2 separate regions of the Homo sapiens genome follow, and region 2 is linked to region 1. A link means that fine-mapping ties the variant in region 1 to the expression of a gene that starts in the linked region. Tissue or cell type: left ventricle. Region 1 holds a variant in brackets; the other region holds the start of a gene. All regions are shown on one strand. Distances are between the middles of the regions.

Region 1 (8,056 bases):
GTTCCCCTCGTGGAATCTCCATTTTGTTAAACCTTAGATCACTCTATGTCACACCCCAGGTAAAGGCCTCCCGTGGGTTTCCCGTCCCACTCAAAGAAAAAAGCTGCAGCCCCTTTAGTTGCCTTCAAGGCCATATTGGATGCATTCCACACCATTCCCCTCAGCCACCTGCTCTACCACGTCCACCCTGTTCCCTGCACACGTGGGGTGTGTTGGATCCATTCCCACACCATTTCCCTCAGCCACATGCTCTACCACGTCCACCCTGTTCCCTGCCCCTTCAGCCACGTGCTCTACCACGTCCACCCTGTTCCCTGCACACATGGGTTGTGTTGGATCCATTCCCACACCATTCCCTTCAGCCACCGGCTCTACCACGTCCACCCTGTTCCCTGCACACGTGGGGTGTGTTGGATCCATTCCCACACCATTCCCCTCAGCCACCGGCTCTACCACGTCCACCCGGTTCCCTGCACACGTGGGGTGTGTTAGATGCCGTGCCTCCTCAGTTCCTTCTTCCTAGAGTTCTTGTCCCCCAGCTCAATGACTCGTTCCCCCTCCTCCTTCAGACCAATGCTGAAGGGGCATCTCAGTAAGGCCTTTCCTGACCATGCCACTTAAAATTGCAATCCCACCCATGAAACTCACAGTCTCTGTTTTATTTTCCTCCATAGCCCATCTTCTAACACGACATGTGCTGCTGCTTTCTAAGCAGACACTTCTTATTCACTTGTTTTGTTTATGTCTACCTCCCATCGCTACAATGAAAGCCCCAGGAGGGTGGGGTCTTTGTTTTTGTTTATTACCATATTTCTGGTGCTCAGAACAGAGCCTGGCATATAGCAGGAGCTCAACAAGTATCTGCTGGGTGACTGAAGGCCAGCTAGGTGCTCTCTCCACTAAACCATTCACTTTCCTGGACGCTGCAGTGCACCCAGAAAAGCATTATTTCATCTTGGCGGGACAGCGTGTCTCGTGCTATTCAAATGCTAGGCTCTGAGTAAAACCAGGCTCACTAAGAGAGATGTCAACAATGTCAAAAAATAATACTCAGGTATTTAATGTGCCTCAGAATTGTCCCAGAGACCCCCAGGCAATCCAAAGGAAGGTGGGCCTAATGAAGCCCTGAAGCAAAAGCTCTAGGCCACCAAAAATTGACAAAATTGTTTCAAGAGGGACTCCACTGAGATCTGGATAAAATCTTTACTGTCTGACAGGCTGGTTGTCAAGGGTGGTCTCAGTACACATAGATATTTAAAAAAATAAAAAGGAAGAAAAGAAAATATATATAAAGCTAAAGAAGTATAATAAAACAGATTTTTTTTGGAGACCAAGTCTTTCTCTATTACCCAGGCTGGAGTGCAGTGGCACAATCTCGGCTCACTGCAACCTCCACCTCCCAGGCTCAAGCAATCCTCCTGTCTCAACCTCCCAAGTAGCTAGGGCCATGGGTGTGCACCACCACCCCTGGCAAATTTTTTGTATTTTCAGTAGAGATGGGGTTTCATCGTCTTGCCCAGGTTGGTCTCAAACTCCTGAGCTGAGGCGATCCACTGGCTTCGGCCTCCCAAAGTGCTAGGATTACAGGCGTGAGCCACCGCCCCCAGACTAATTATAATAAAACAGATCTTTAAACCTTGATTCATTCGATCAATATTTTTGAGTGCTTACGATAGAGCCAGCACTGTGCTAGGCACAGAAGCTGTGGAGATAAAGACACCTTTTCTGCCCTCACGATCTTGATGACTAGTGGGAAAACCAAATCAACAAACAGATGAAAAGTGAGGGAAGTGCAGGAGCAGGGCCGGGGCCGGTGCAGGTGCTACCAGACACATTTAACAAGAACCTAATGCCATCCTGGGGTGTCGGAGGAGGTACCCCCAAGGTTTACTTTCCCTTTGAAAAATAACGGTGGAATGGAGGTGGTGGCAGTGATGCACAAAGACGTGCCTGGAAGGGGAGCATCAAGTACAAGGTGAGAGAGGTAAAGGTGAGGTGGTGACACAGACAGGAGTCAGGTCATGAAGGGATGAAGAATATCATCCTAACCGTGCAAAAATGCTTTTCCGGGCAAGTAAAGGATTCAAACTCCAGTTCAGAATTAACTTATCTGAGCAAGAAAGAATTGGGCTGGGCACAGTGGCTCACGCCTGTAATCCCAGCGCTTTGGGAGGCCGAGGCAGGTGGATCACAAGGTCAGGAGTTCAAGACCAGCCTGGCCAAAATGGTGAAACCCTGTCTCTACTAAAAATACAAAAATTAGCCGGGCGTGTTGGCAGGCGCCTGTAATCCCATCTACTTGGGAGGCTGAAGCAGAGAATTGCTTGAACCTGTGGGGTGGAGGTTGCAGTGAGCCAAGATCGCGCCACTGCACTCCAGCCTGGGCGACCGAGCGAGACTCCATCTCAAAAAAATAAAAATAAAAAAGATAAAAAAGAAAGAATTAATCATGGCTAGCCCACTTCAAAGGGCTAGGGCCTTGTTGACTGGTGCTGGAAGATACTTGGACAAGGAGAGAGGGATGTGCCAAGAATCCAAGCAGAACAGCGTCCACCGTGCTCTCCAGCCATGCCGTCCGACAGGGCAGCCACGAGCCACCTGTGGCTGTTTAAGTTAACATTCAATGCAAATGTTAAAGTTCTGTTCCTCAGACCACTTGCCACATTTCAGGTGCTCAATAACCACACATAGGAGTCACTCCAAACCTACACTGGTTCAGTGGGACTGCCCGTGAAAGGTAAATAAATAAATAACCACATGTAGCTGGTATTAAGAACTACCATATTGGATAGTGCAAAGAACATTTTCATCATTACAGACAGTTCTTTTGGACAGCATTGCCCTAGATATTTTTGTTGTTGTTACTTTTTATACATTAGACTCAGTATTTCTATTGCCATGGGTGGCTCAGGTAGTCGTATAAGCACAGGAGAAATTGCAGATATGCAGCACATAGCAACGCTTCAGCCAACAGTGGATCACCTGTATGGCAGTGTTCACATTTGATTATAAAATACGGCATCTTTACTGTACCTTTCCTATGTTGCACTATGTTTAGATACACAAATACTTACCATCGTGCTGCAAGTGCCTACAGTGTTCGGCACAGTATTATAGCAGACGGCCCAGGTGTGCGATGGGCTGGGCCATGTGGGTGTGCACTCTGTGCTGTGTTCATCCAAGGACGAAATTGCCAACAACGCGTTTCTCAGAGTGTACCCTTGTCATTAAGCGACACGTGACTGTAACTGCTATTATAAACCACAGTGGACCCTTGAGCAACATGGATCTGAACTGTGCGGGTCCACTTATACGTGGATTTTCTCCCGCCTCTGCCACCCCTGACAAGCAAGTCCAGATGAATTGCAAGTTTGAAAGACCTAAAACGTACCAGAGAGAAGATAC[G/A]CGAAACAAATGAATGAACAAAACATATATCCATATATCAAACTAACCATATTTCAAATTGATTTAAGCAAATGGCTAAACAACATAAAAGTGGTCAGTTCTCATTGAATATGTTAATTTTTTCTTTAAAAAGTTCCTGACATTTGCCTGTGACGCTGGTGAATTCTTGATCTTATTCTTGACATAAGCTCTCCATGGTCGACTTGGGTGATTTCTGGTGTGTCCGTGTTAAGCGGGGATATAGTGACAAGCCCAATTCCGGTTAATGTGGCAGAACGAGAGGAGGAAGTGGACCCTTGGGTGAGGACCATACCTGTGTTCCACTCATGGTAGCAGCCGCCCCAGGGCAGGTCGATGGTGAAGCTGCTGAAGAGGTAGAACAGGGCCCAGGCCAACACAATGATGTAGTAGACGTTGAGGAGGATGACGATCATCTGGGAGGCATAGCCAATGCCTGCGGGGAAACTGCAGAATTGGGCTAGGAACGGTGGACAGCGGTGGCGTGCACCTGTCATTTCAGCTATGCGGGACGCTGAGGTGAGAGGATTGTCTGAGGCTGGGAGTTCAATTTACCATTGAGGGAAACTGCTATTTTTGTAACTCCCTGTGGATCTATAATTATTTCAAAATAAAAACGTAAAGAAAATCCTATATATGGAGAAATAATGAAATTAAATACTGTAAATTTTAAATACTTGTGTCAAGATAGAACTTTTTTTTTTTTTTGAGATGGAGTTTTGCTCTTGTCACCCAGGCTGGAGTGCAGTGGTGCAATCTCGGCTCGCTGCAACCTCTGCCTCCCAGGTTCAAGAGATTCTCCTGCCTCAGCCTCCTGAGTAGCTAGGATTACCGGTGCCCACCACCATGCCTGGCTAATTTTTTGTATTTTTTGTATTTTGTATTTTAGTTTCACCATGTTGGCCAGGCTGGTCTCGAACTCCTGACCTCAGGTGATCCACCTGCCTCGGCCTCCCAAAGTGCTGGGATTACAGGCATGGGCCACCACGCCCGGCCAAGATAGAACTATGAATGAAATAATTTTTTCTCATTTAAAGTTCTCTTTTAAAATGTTTATAATTGATTTAAATATGTCTTAAAATACAACAACATTGTTATGTGTTTAAAACATATGGCTAAAGTGGCTTTGCACTCTACTTACCTAACCTAAAGCCTCTGCCCCATCCTCACTGCTGTTTCTTGCCCATTCTCTGATAGATCAGCTGACTAGCTCAGTATGCAGCCCACAAACCAAGGGTTTAGCATAGAGACTCGGGATCTTATCTTAACCTCAGAACTGCTACTAATCACTCAAGTCATTCCAAACAAGGTTTATAACCACGAATGAAGACGCTTTGGAGTCAGGTACAGAGCTACTCACCCTCAAAGATGGGGCAGATCTTCCTCCAGGCTGTGACGCCTCCCTGGCTAGTGTACTGGCCTAGTGCTGTCTCCAGAAGGAAGACAGGAATGCCACAGGTAAAGAGGAAGACGAGGTAGGGGATGAAGAAGGCACCTGTGGTTAGAAAACAGGCTGTTCATTTCCTGGGACTATTCTCCTCATGGTCTGCATTCACCTCCTCCCATTACCAACCCATACTGCCAGTCAGAATCTCGGAGGCAGAGAACATGCAAAACTGCAGGAGACAGCTGTCTAGATGTTTGGAACATAGCAGAGATCAAGAGTCACCCCATTATCTAAGATCTACACAGCCTCTTGCCTTTTTTCACTGCAGTTTCAGTCTATACCTATTAAAGTTTGTTCCCCACTGAACAATTACTGCTTAACACATAACTTGTGGCAATAACAAGGAGCTTATTAAATAATGGATGTCTAGGAGCATTGGCACAGCCCACAGTCTATAATTCTTTTCAAAGAAAGCATTGCTCTTAACGTCAGGTAGTCTTTTAGTAAGCTGAAATCAGATGCCCTTTCAGTCATTGTTATGGTTTGAATGTATCCCCTAAAGTTCGTGGTTGGAAACTTAATTCCCTATGCAACAGTGTTGGGACGTGGAGCCTAATAAGATGTAAGTCATGAGGGCTCTGCCCTCATGAATGGATTAATGTTATTACTGTGAGACTGTGTTTGTTATAAAAGTGAGTTTGGGCCAGGCACAGTGGCTCACGCCTGTAATCCCAGCACTTTGGGAGGCTGAGGTGGGAGGATCGCTTGAGCCCAGGACTTCAAGACCAGCCTGGGCAACATGGGAAAACTCTGTCTCTAAAAGAAATACAAAAAATTATCTGGGCATGGCTGTGTGTGCCTGTAATCCTAGCTACTCGGGAGGCTGAGGTGGGAGGATTGATTAAACCTGGGAGTTCGAGGCTGCAGTGAGCTGTGATTGTGCCACTGCCCTCCCTCCAACCTGGGTGACAGAGCAAGACCCTGTCCAAAAAAAAAAAGTGTATTTGGCTCTCTGTCTTTTATATGAATATTCTCTTGCCTTTCTGCCTTCTGCCATGGGCTGACACAAAGAAGAAGGCCCTCACCAGAGGTGGACTGCTTGCCCTGGACTTCCCAACCTCCAAAACTATAATAAATAAATATCTGTTCCTTATAAATTACCCATCTCAGGTGTTCTGTTGTAGCAACACAAAATGAACTAAGCTAGTAATCTGTCTCCTTCTGTTTTTATAAGCATTGGCGGAGACAAGACTACTGATGCCAGATATACTGGTATTTTCCCTACCATGGACCTGTCATCTGCTGGCAAAGTGGACAGCACAGTTCATAGGACACAGAGTACCAGAGAAGACAGAACTGCACAGACAGGAGAATCTGCAGAGGGTCCCCCTCAAGCTTCCAACTGAGTACTAGTCAGTGCATATGTGTGAGAAAACTGAGGTGAGGGAAAGAACCATTCAAAATGATTAAAAGTAATGGTGCTCACACACTGCCAGAGTAAATAATCTCAAGATTCACCAGGCATTAGGCAGAGTACGCAGAAGGGCATTTCCTCAGTAACGGGGAATAATTATCCCTAGACCGAGCACACTTCTATTGCTACCTAACCAATCTTAAAAGCAAGATATAAAAAGAGCAAGTAACTTCACTGATCCCAGAACAGAGCTAAAGAATATTTACAGAAATACGAAATTGGCCGGGTGCAGTGGCTCACGTCTGTAATCCCAGCACTTCGGGAGGCTGAGGTGGACAGATCACCAAGTCAGGAGTTCAAGACCAGCCTGGCCAATATAGTGAAATCCTGTCTCTACTAAAAATACAAAAATTAGCCTGGCATGGTGGCACGCACCTGTAGCTCCAGCTACTTGGGAGGCTGAGGCAGGAGAATTGCTTGAACCTGGGAGGCAGAGGTTGCAGTGAGCCGAGATCGTGCCACTGCACTCCAGCCTGGGCAACAGAGTGGGACTCTGTCGCAAAAAAAAAAGAAAGAAAGAAAAGGCAGGGTGTGGTGGATTACGCCTGTAATCCCAGCACTCTGGGAGGCCAAGGCAGGCAGATCACGAGGTCAAGAGATCGAGACCATCCTGGCCAACATGGTGAAACCCCATCTCTAGTAAAAATACAAAAATTAGCTGGGCGCGGTGGCTCAAGCCTGTAATCCCAGCACTTTGGGAGGCTGAGGCAGGTGGATCATGAGGTCAGGAGATCGAGACCATCCTGGCTAACACAGTGAAACCCCATCTCTACTAAAAATACAAAAAAATTAGCCGGGTGTGGTGGTGGGTGCCTATAGTCCCAGCTACTTGGGAGGCTGAGGAAGGAGAATGGCGTGAACCCAGGAGGCGGAGGTTGCAGTGAGCCGAGATTGTGCCACTGCAATCCAGCCTGGGTGACAGAGCAAGACTCCATCTCAAAAAATAAAAGTAAAAATAAATAAATAAATAAATAAATAAAATACAAAAATTAGCTGGGCATGGTGGCATGTGCCTGTGGTCCCAGCTACTTGGGAGGCTGAACCAGGAGAATTGCTTGAACCCGGGAGATGGAGGTTGCAGTGAACCGAGATCGCTCCACTGCACTCCAGCCTGGCAACAGAGTGAGACTCTGTCTCAAAAATAAATAAATAAATAAATAAATTATCCAGCAACCCATAAAGCAAAAATATTACCAGGTCTGGTATTCAATCGAAAATTACCAGGAAAGCAAAGAATCAGGAAAATGTTACTCATAGCAAGGAGATTGAACCTGACCCATAATTTACAAAGATGTTAGAATTAGCAGATGAGAATATTTAAAAGTTATTATAACTGTATTGCAAGTGTTCCAAAAGTTAGGGATATAAAAGATATTGAAAAAGACCCAAATAAAACTTCTGAACATGAACACTACAGTGTGTGAGATTTAAAGAAATACATTGGATGGGATTAATGTTAGTAGGCAGAGCAGAAGAAAAGATCAGTGACCTTGAACCATAATAGAAACTATCTAAAATAAAACACAGAGAGAAAAAAGAACATTTTTGCTGGGCATGGTAGTTCATGCCTGTAATCCCCGCATTTTGGGAAGCCGAGGCAGGTGGATCACCTGAGGTCAGGAGTTCAAGACCAGCCCAGCCAACATGGTGAAACCCTGTCTCTACTAAAAGTACAAAAATTAGCTGGGTGTGGTGGTGCATGCCTGTAATTCCAGCTACTTGGGAGGCTGAGGCAGGAGAATCACTTGAACCTGGGAGGTGGAGGTTGCAGT
Region 2 (7,065 bases), 20 kb after region 1:
TGTCCAAGATCACACAGAGTGTTAAGTAGCAGAGCCAGAATCCAAACTCTCATCCACCTGGTTCCAGCTTGTGCTCATATTTCTACGATGCCACGTTATAATAGAAAGAGCCCTGGGATAGTCACGTAACCTTTCTAGGTCTTAGTCTCTTACAGAGTGTCCTTAATGACCTCTAAGCGTCCTCCTACCTCCAGAATTCTATACATCTATGGGACTCCCCAGAGGGGCCGTAAGTGCAGGAGATGGAAGTATCCTCCTTCCAGGAGTGGGTGGGGTGGCACAAGGGCTCTCATCTCACCTCCCCCATTTTTGTAGCAGAGATAGGGAAACCTCCAGACGTTGCCTAAGCCAATGATCTCCCCAGCCACTGACAGCACAAACTCCATCTTGTTGTTCCAGTGCCCCCGCTCCAGGGTGCCATCTTCCTCCTTCTTTTCCATGACTGGATACACTGGTTTTGTCTCTCCATTACTGGTTGTGCCTGAGACCCTGCTATCCATCCCACCTGGAAAACAAGTGGGATGCTCTGTTACTGTTGGGAACCCCAGAAGGAAACCCCTCCTCCTGCTTTTACCAACAAATCCATAAGGGAATGAATGCACTGGAAGAGGTGAATTTCTATTCCCTTCCCTGTAGACCATGTCCTCCTTAGCAGTTCTCATTGGTAGAAGCTGGGTGACAGCTACTGAAAACATATATTCCTTTCCTGTTTCAGGAAGAAAGTGTTGGTACTGACAGACAGCCTTTGCTTCCACTATAAGGCCCTCTTGGGTTGAGGATTGCAGACATGGAGGAGTTCATGGGCCGCTGTGCTGTCTAAATTCTCCCTGCCACCCTACAGTCAGCCTCGTCGGGATTAGCATGTGCTTCAGTCTGTTTACTCTGTATGCTGGGACACGTTGAAAGGATGGGATTTTACATGTCCTCAAAGCCACCAATTTCCCTTGCAGGAATTTATGCTAAGGAAATAATTGTGATTGTGAGTGAAAGGTGTAGCATTAGGATATTTATTGTTCATAACAGCGAAAAATCGGAAAGTACATAAATTGTCAAAAATGGTAGATATGTTGATAAATTATGGCACATTCATATAATGGACTACTATATATAATCATTAAAACCTGTGTTATAGAAACAAGTATATCGGCACAAAAGGGTGCTCACAATATATAGTAAAAAACAGTACATACAATATGATCATGCTTGACAAATATTTTATAAAGTATTTATAGGCATTGAAGGAGTAGGATAGCCATGAAAATGTTTTTCTTTCAGCAGTTGGGTTATAGGAACATTTCCTTATCTATATTTTCTACAATTACATCAAAAATGTGTTTTACTTTTGTAATATAAAAATAAAAGCCGGTTTTAAAAAAAAATCCTGTCAAAGGATTGGGAGAGGTTGAGTGGGACCAGGAATTGTGAGTAAGATGAGGTGGTCTAAGTACTCCTTCTATGTCTCTCTGAAATCAGCGTAAGGCAGAGATTTACTATGCGCTCTTTTTCTTTTTTGGTGATGACAAATTAGGAGTCTGTGACAGTAGAGAAGATGATATAAATAAAAAGCCACAGTTTTAACCATTCACTGTCAGAAATGGCCCATTCCAGACCACTGTTGGGATTGAGGATGACTGGACGTGGCCCACATTTAGTTAGCAACTACTATAGACTAGGCACTTCACATACATTCTTTTCATTTAATTCTCACAACAACCCTGAGATGTAAGCATTATTACCTCCACTTTATAAATAAGGAAGTTGCAGCTCAGAGAGGTTAAATAATGTGACTGCTGCTGCCATATAGCTACTAACTTGCACAGCCAGGACTTAAACCCACTCTGCCCCTGCTCTTTCAGTTCCATCCCTTTGATTACATTGGCTGCCTAGGTTCACTGGTGTGTCTACTAAAAGCATCTTCTAATGACTCTGCCTTGATTTTGCAGAGTGGCCTCTTTTCTGGAGAAGGAGGCAGATGGACTTTTTTCTAAGCCTCAAGCAAAGTTCATGTTAACAGAACTTTCTCAGCAGTAACCTCTTCTGGCCACAGACTCTACTTTGGCTCTGACCCAGAAAATTAGAAAGTCAGTGAACAGGCCGGGTGCAATGGCTCACGCCTGTAATCCCAGCACTTGGGAGGCCGAGGCGGGTGGATCTCCTGAGGTCAGGAGTTTGAGACCAGCCTGGCCAACATGGTGACACCCCGTCTCTACGAAAAGTACAAAAATTAGCTGGGCATGGTGGCAGGCACCTGTAATCCCAGCTACTCAGGAGGCTGAGGCAGGAGAATCGCTTGAAACCAGGAGGCAGAGGTTGCAGTGAGCCGAGATCGCGCCACTGCACTCCAGTCTGGGCAACAAAGCGAGACTCTGTCTCAAAAAAAAGAAAAAAAAAAAAAGTCAGGGAACAGCAGGCATCTATGTTTATCTGATAAATTAGGGAATGAGCTCCTTTCTACAAAGGAGAAACTCAAGTAACTGGTCCCAAGAGGGCTCCTCAGTCCTTTTGGGAAGGTTGTCTAAGGTACTGACTGTGCTGGCCTCCCCTCCCTTTACCAGCTGATGGATCTCTCCCAGTGATGGAAAGCCTTCCCTTCTCCACCCTCCCAGACCCTAGGAGAAACAGTAGCCTTCTCCTGGCTCCCTTAGCCTCATTAGAGCTGCTTCTCAGAGGTAGCATGTTGTGTCTGAAAGGTCATGAGCTGTAGAGTCAGATGAGGCCAGGTTCAAACATTAGTTTTTTCTCATACCAATGTCTGACTTCAGAGAAGTTAATGAATGACTCTGAGCCTTAGTTTGTTCATCTGTAAAAGTGGGGATGATAGATAGGATATACTTAGCTATAAGAATTAAATGAGGAAATATACATATGTATACACACTTAATAGAATAACAGGTACTCAAATTTTTGTTTTCTTTCAGTCCTGTCAGAGTTGATCATTGTTCTCTTTTCTCAGAGAAGAAAGACTTTGTTTTCTTGGAGTTAAATCCAGTTGTCTTTCCTCTCAATCTAGGGCTCTCTCTTTCCAAATCACAGTGTCACTTAAGTCAACAGCCACCCAAGTTTCAGAAAGTCAAGAAAATAGCACATAATCTTTGCATTTGCACACATACATGTCAGAAGCGTACTTTCTAGGCGAGGGTAAGAAAAAAGTCCTTTGGTTGTAAGTCCCATGGATCCCACCAACCTGCAGTCTGAGACGCAGAAATAGAAAAAAAAGAGAAGAAAACATTTCGAACCTTAGTGAAGCTGCTGCCAGAGGTCCAGTCAGGGGAGAAGAATTATCTAAGGGGGAAGGAGAAGGTGCTGGCTATTTAAAGTGTGGTTCCAGAACGCCTCTGTGGCACTTGAAATTCTAAACTTGGCCCAGCCCACATTCCACCCTTGTGCCTCCCCCTCCCCTTTTCTCCCCTCCCCTCCCCTCGGCCACTGGACAACCCACACATGAGTGATTTCGCAGTCTGGGGAGTGTGCACGCCCTGGCAGGTCGGGCCAGTTGCTGGTGAGCTTATGAAGTGTGGTCTCCTCCCCGGAGCTCATGTGCGCTTCCCACCTGGTGAGCTCAGGGTCTCTCTGGAGGGATCCTGCCTCCCACCCCTGTCTCCAACACAAGTGCTCCTATAAATCCATCAAGAATAGGTATTCCTTTGGTCAGGTGCTGTGTAGATTAATTTAAAAATACATTTATCTTACCGTTTCGCAGCTTGCAATGTGGAATGGACGATGATTTAGAACAAAGATACATAGATACAGAACTCTGAGATGTCAGAAAAACTTCCCAAACATACACAGACATTTATACACATATAGAAAAAGTCTGAAAAAATCTTCGCTAAATGATTAATAGTAGTTACATTTGTAGAGTGGAACTGAGATCAGGAGATGGCAGTAAGGGAGATTTTTTCCCCACTTTTTCAATATTGTTTAGATTTTTTAATATGCTAGAATTTTAAAATATTTTTTAAATCAATAGAGAAAAGGAAGTGCCAACGTTTAAAATAAAGCAAAGCCCTAAAGCTGTTATAAGGGAAGGAGCAGGCGGTGAGCGCGAGGCCGAGGTCATCCAGGGAGCTTCGTTTCTCTGCAGGAACAGCCCACAGAGGCGGCTGTGAGAGTAGTTCATTCAGCCTGGAGTCTAGGACAGGGCAGAGTCCCACCTCAGCCATGTGCTGAAGCACAGTACATGTAGTGGAAACCTGCTCAGACTTTGACACCAGAGAGTGTGGGGTCTGAGTCCTACGTATGCCACTGTCTAGCTTGAGATTTCAGGAGATGATGACTAACTGTAAATGGCAGCTGTTATTCATCCTTAAGGGATTATTCACAGTGAGCAGTGAGCCCGGAAGTCTTCTTGAAGGAGACGGGACTGAGAGACCCCTGAGCTAAGCTGGGCTCTGGCCAGACTGTGAGAATGAGTTAGGTAGGGGATGCGGCAATGAGTGAGTGAGGTGATAGAGACATCTTGAGATGACGGAGAAGTGTGGAAAGAAAGACGGATCGAAGAGTCTAAGGTAGTTTCCGTTTCCTTGATCCCTCATCTAACTCAAGGGCATGGGGTAGGGGCATGGAAACACTGCATGGTAATACCTGGAGAGCTTCCCAGAAGCTTCTTGGAAATTATTATTCTTATGTTTCAGCGGCCCCTGTTCCTCTCCCCTTTCAAGCTTTCATCTGTTAGACTGAGCTCTGTAAAGCAATAAACCAAAAGCGTCCTGAGACAGCCTACAAACTCATGTAAAAAAAAGACCATCTTCAAAGCAGTGCTATTGACTTCCATTTTTACGTATCACTGAGTGGTACTTACTAATGGCCTACTATGCATTATAAACTTTGGCATTTGTAATCTAAAATTACCAGATAACGGGTGTTTTCTCAGATACCATTCAGCCTTTGGCAATGTTGCACAGCCCCTTCTGTGTCCTCACATATGCAAACGGTTGCAATTTCCAGCTTCCAGGAAAGACTGTCAGTGATAAGGACATCATCAGGCTTATCCTGAGTTGGTTGTGAGCTGCTGCTGTTGTATGAAGGAATGTTGGCTTTACTTACCAACTCTTTTGTTTTTACATAACTGCTGCCATGTTACCATGTTGACTCCTATTTTATTCCTCTCCAAATCTTTGTTATCCCCAATTTCTTTTTCCTCTATAAAGTGGGAATGGCTATGGTAGGTTTTTTGTCCTGCTTAGGTTGACAAAAGTTAAAGAAAAAAAAAAAAAGCTTGAGAACCACTGGTAGATAAATGTTGGCGACAGTCCCTCACAACTTCCCGTCTGGGGTTCCACACAAAACAGGCATGACTAGCCTTGCATCTACCTCACGTTGCCATCATCCTTTGGTCTGCTGGGTGCAAAGTCAAGAAACCTGAAAACAGGTAACAACAGAATCCGTATTCAACAGTTCTTACTCAAGAGGCTGCATAAGTTTTAAGACTCACTAGAGATTGTCAGTGAGGATAATTGAAGGCTGTGCTTCCAACAACAGGATTGTATAAAACAAAGTGAACCACGCAAAAAGCAGGCCTAGGAGTCCTGGTTTGTACCAAGTTGATCCCAGGTATGTTTAAATGACAGTACGCCATGATACGCTCTCCCAAAAATTGTTTGACTCTACTAGGAGTGGAATAAGAACAAATAAAATTTTTTTCTAGTTTGACATTTCACAGAAACAAATTTTAAAAGCAGCACGATTTGTTTCAAGAAAGAACATTTCTGAGCAACATCAAGGTGGCAAAGGAAGTGGTGGGTTCTCCTCTGGAGACCTTTAAATTAAGAGATATAGTTCTGTTTAACCACAGGAGTCAGAAACCTGTTGACTTTTTGGATCCCTTTTCAAACATCACACTGAAAGAAAAGAAAAGAGCAAGTAGAACAGACTAAACAACAAATTATGGCTTTTGCTATAACTGAAATAATTTGAACAACAAAATGAATAATGATAGTATTGGATTGTAGCCCAAAGAACAAAGTTCACTAATAAGTTCATGCTGATACAAATAACCAACAAGTTAATAAGTGGGATAAAAGGACTAGTCTTCCTTACAGTTGAATTCCAATTAATACATATAGAAGGATGCCGAGCATGGTGGCATGCACCTGTAATCTCAGTTACTCAGGGAGGCTGAGGTGGGAGGATTACTTAAGCTCAGGAGTTTGAGGCAACACAGCAAGACCCCATCTCAAAGAAAAAGAAGTCTTAATAAATGTAGAAGGAAAGAGAAAAACAGAAAATCACCATTAGACAAACACCACTATAATAATTGTTGCAGACAAGATCTACCAATGAATGCTAAAACTAGTGGGTGAAAGTTCCAGGAGGAACAGAATTTTTACAATTCCAAAGTGTCTCCCCCAAGATATTTATTAACTACAAAGGGAAAAATAGTGATTTTGAAGTAGAGAAGCCAGGCAGAAACCACCTTAACCAAATGACCAAGGTCAACATCACCAGTAATAAGATAGTAATAAGACATCAATATCTCTCTATATCATGAACCATGGATATGATGTACTAAGAGTGACACAACATTTCTGTGGTATTCTTGCCAAACATGCGGTTCAATCACAAGAAACATAAGACGAACCCAAAGTGAGGGGCATTTGACAAAATTACCGATCACTACTCTTCAAAAGTGTCATGAAAGACAAGACAGACAAGACAACAAAGACTGAGCAAGTGTTTTAGGCTGCAGGAGACTAAGGGAAAATCACAACTAAATGCAATGTGGGGTCCTGAATGGGATCCTAGATAGGATCCTGGAATAGAAAAGGACATGAATGTAAAAACTGGTGAAAGTTGCATAAGGTCTTTAGTTTAATAGTTCTCTACCAATGTTAATTTCCTCGTTCTAACAATTGTACTATGGTTGTGAAAGATGCTAACGTTAGGGGAAGCTGAGTGAAAGATGGAAACTCTCTGTACTATTTTTGCAATTTTTCTGTAAGTCTAAAATTAGCTTAAAATAAAGTTTTTTTGGTTTTTTTTTTTTTGTTGTTGTTGTTGAAGATTTTTGTTTACACTCTATTACAGCCCAAGTACTTGACCCTGCTGTGAAAAGCTCTGGGATGT

The links. PIP is the estimated chance that this variant, and not a neighbour inherited with it, causes the effect.
Region 2: SLC6A13 starts here. The variant in region 1 is the best candidate, but not a certain one, in a credible set for the expression of SLC6A13 in left ventricle (GTEx, PIP 0.53).

Annotation. Positions count from the first base shown.
Region 1 is chr12:238,896-246,951 of GRCh38, forward strand. SLC6A13 (solute carrier family 6 member 13) reads right to left here. Exons shown (of 15, transcript NM_016615.5): 3 at 4,784-4,918; 4 at 3,719-3,859. Among named protein-coding and RNA genes, the nearest start is that of SLC6A13, 20 kb to the right of the region's middle. The variant G/A (reference allele first, on the strand shown) is at 3,406.
Region 2 is chr12:259,553-266,617 of GRCh38, forward strand. SLC6A13 (solute carrier family 6 member 13) reads right to left here and starts at 3,284. Exons shown (of 15, transcript NM_016615.5): 1 at 3,237-3,284; 2 at 299-505. The coding sequence starts at 500.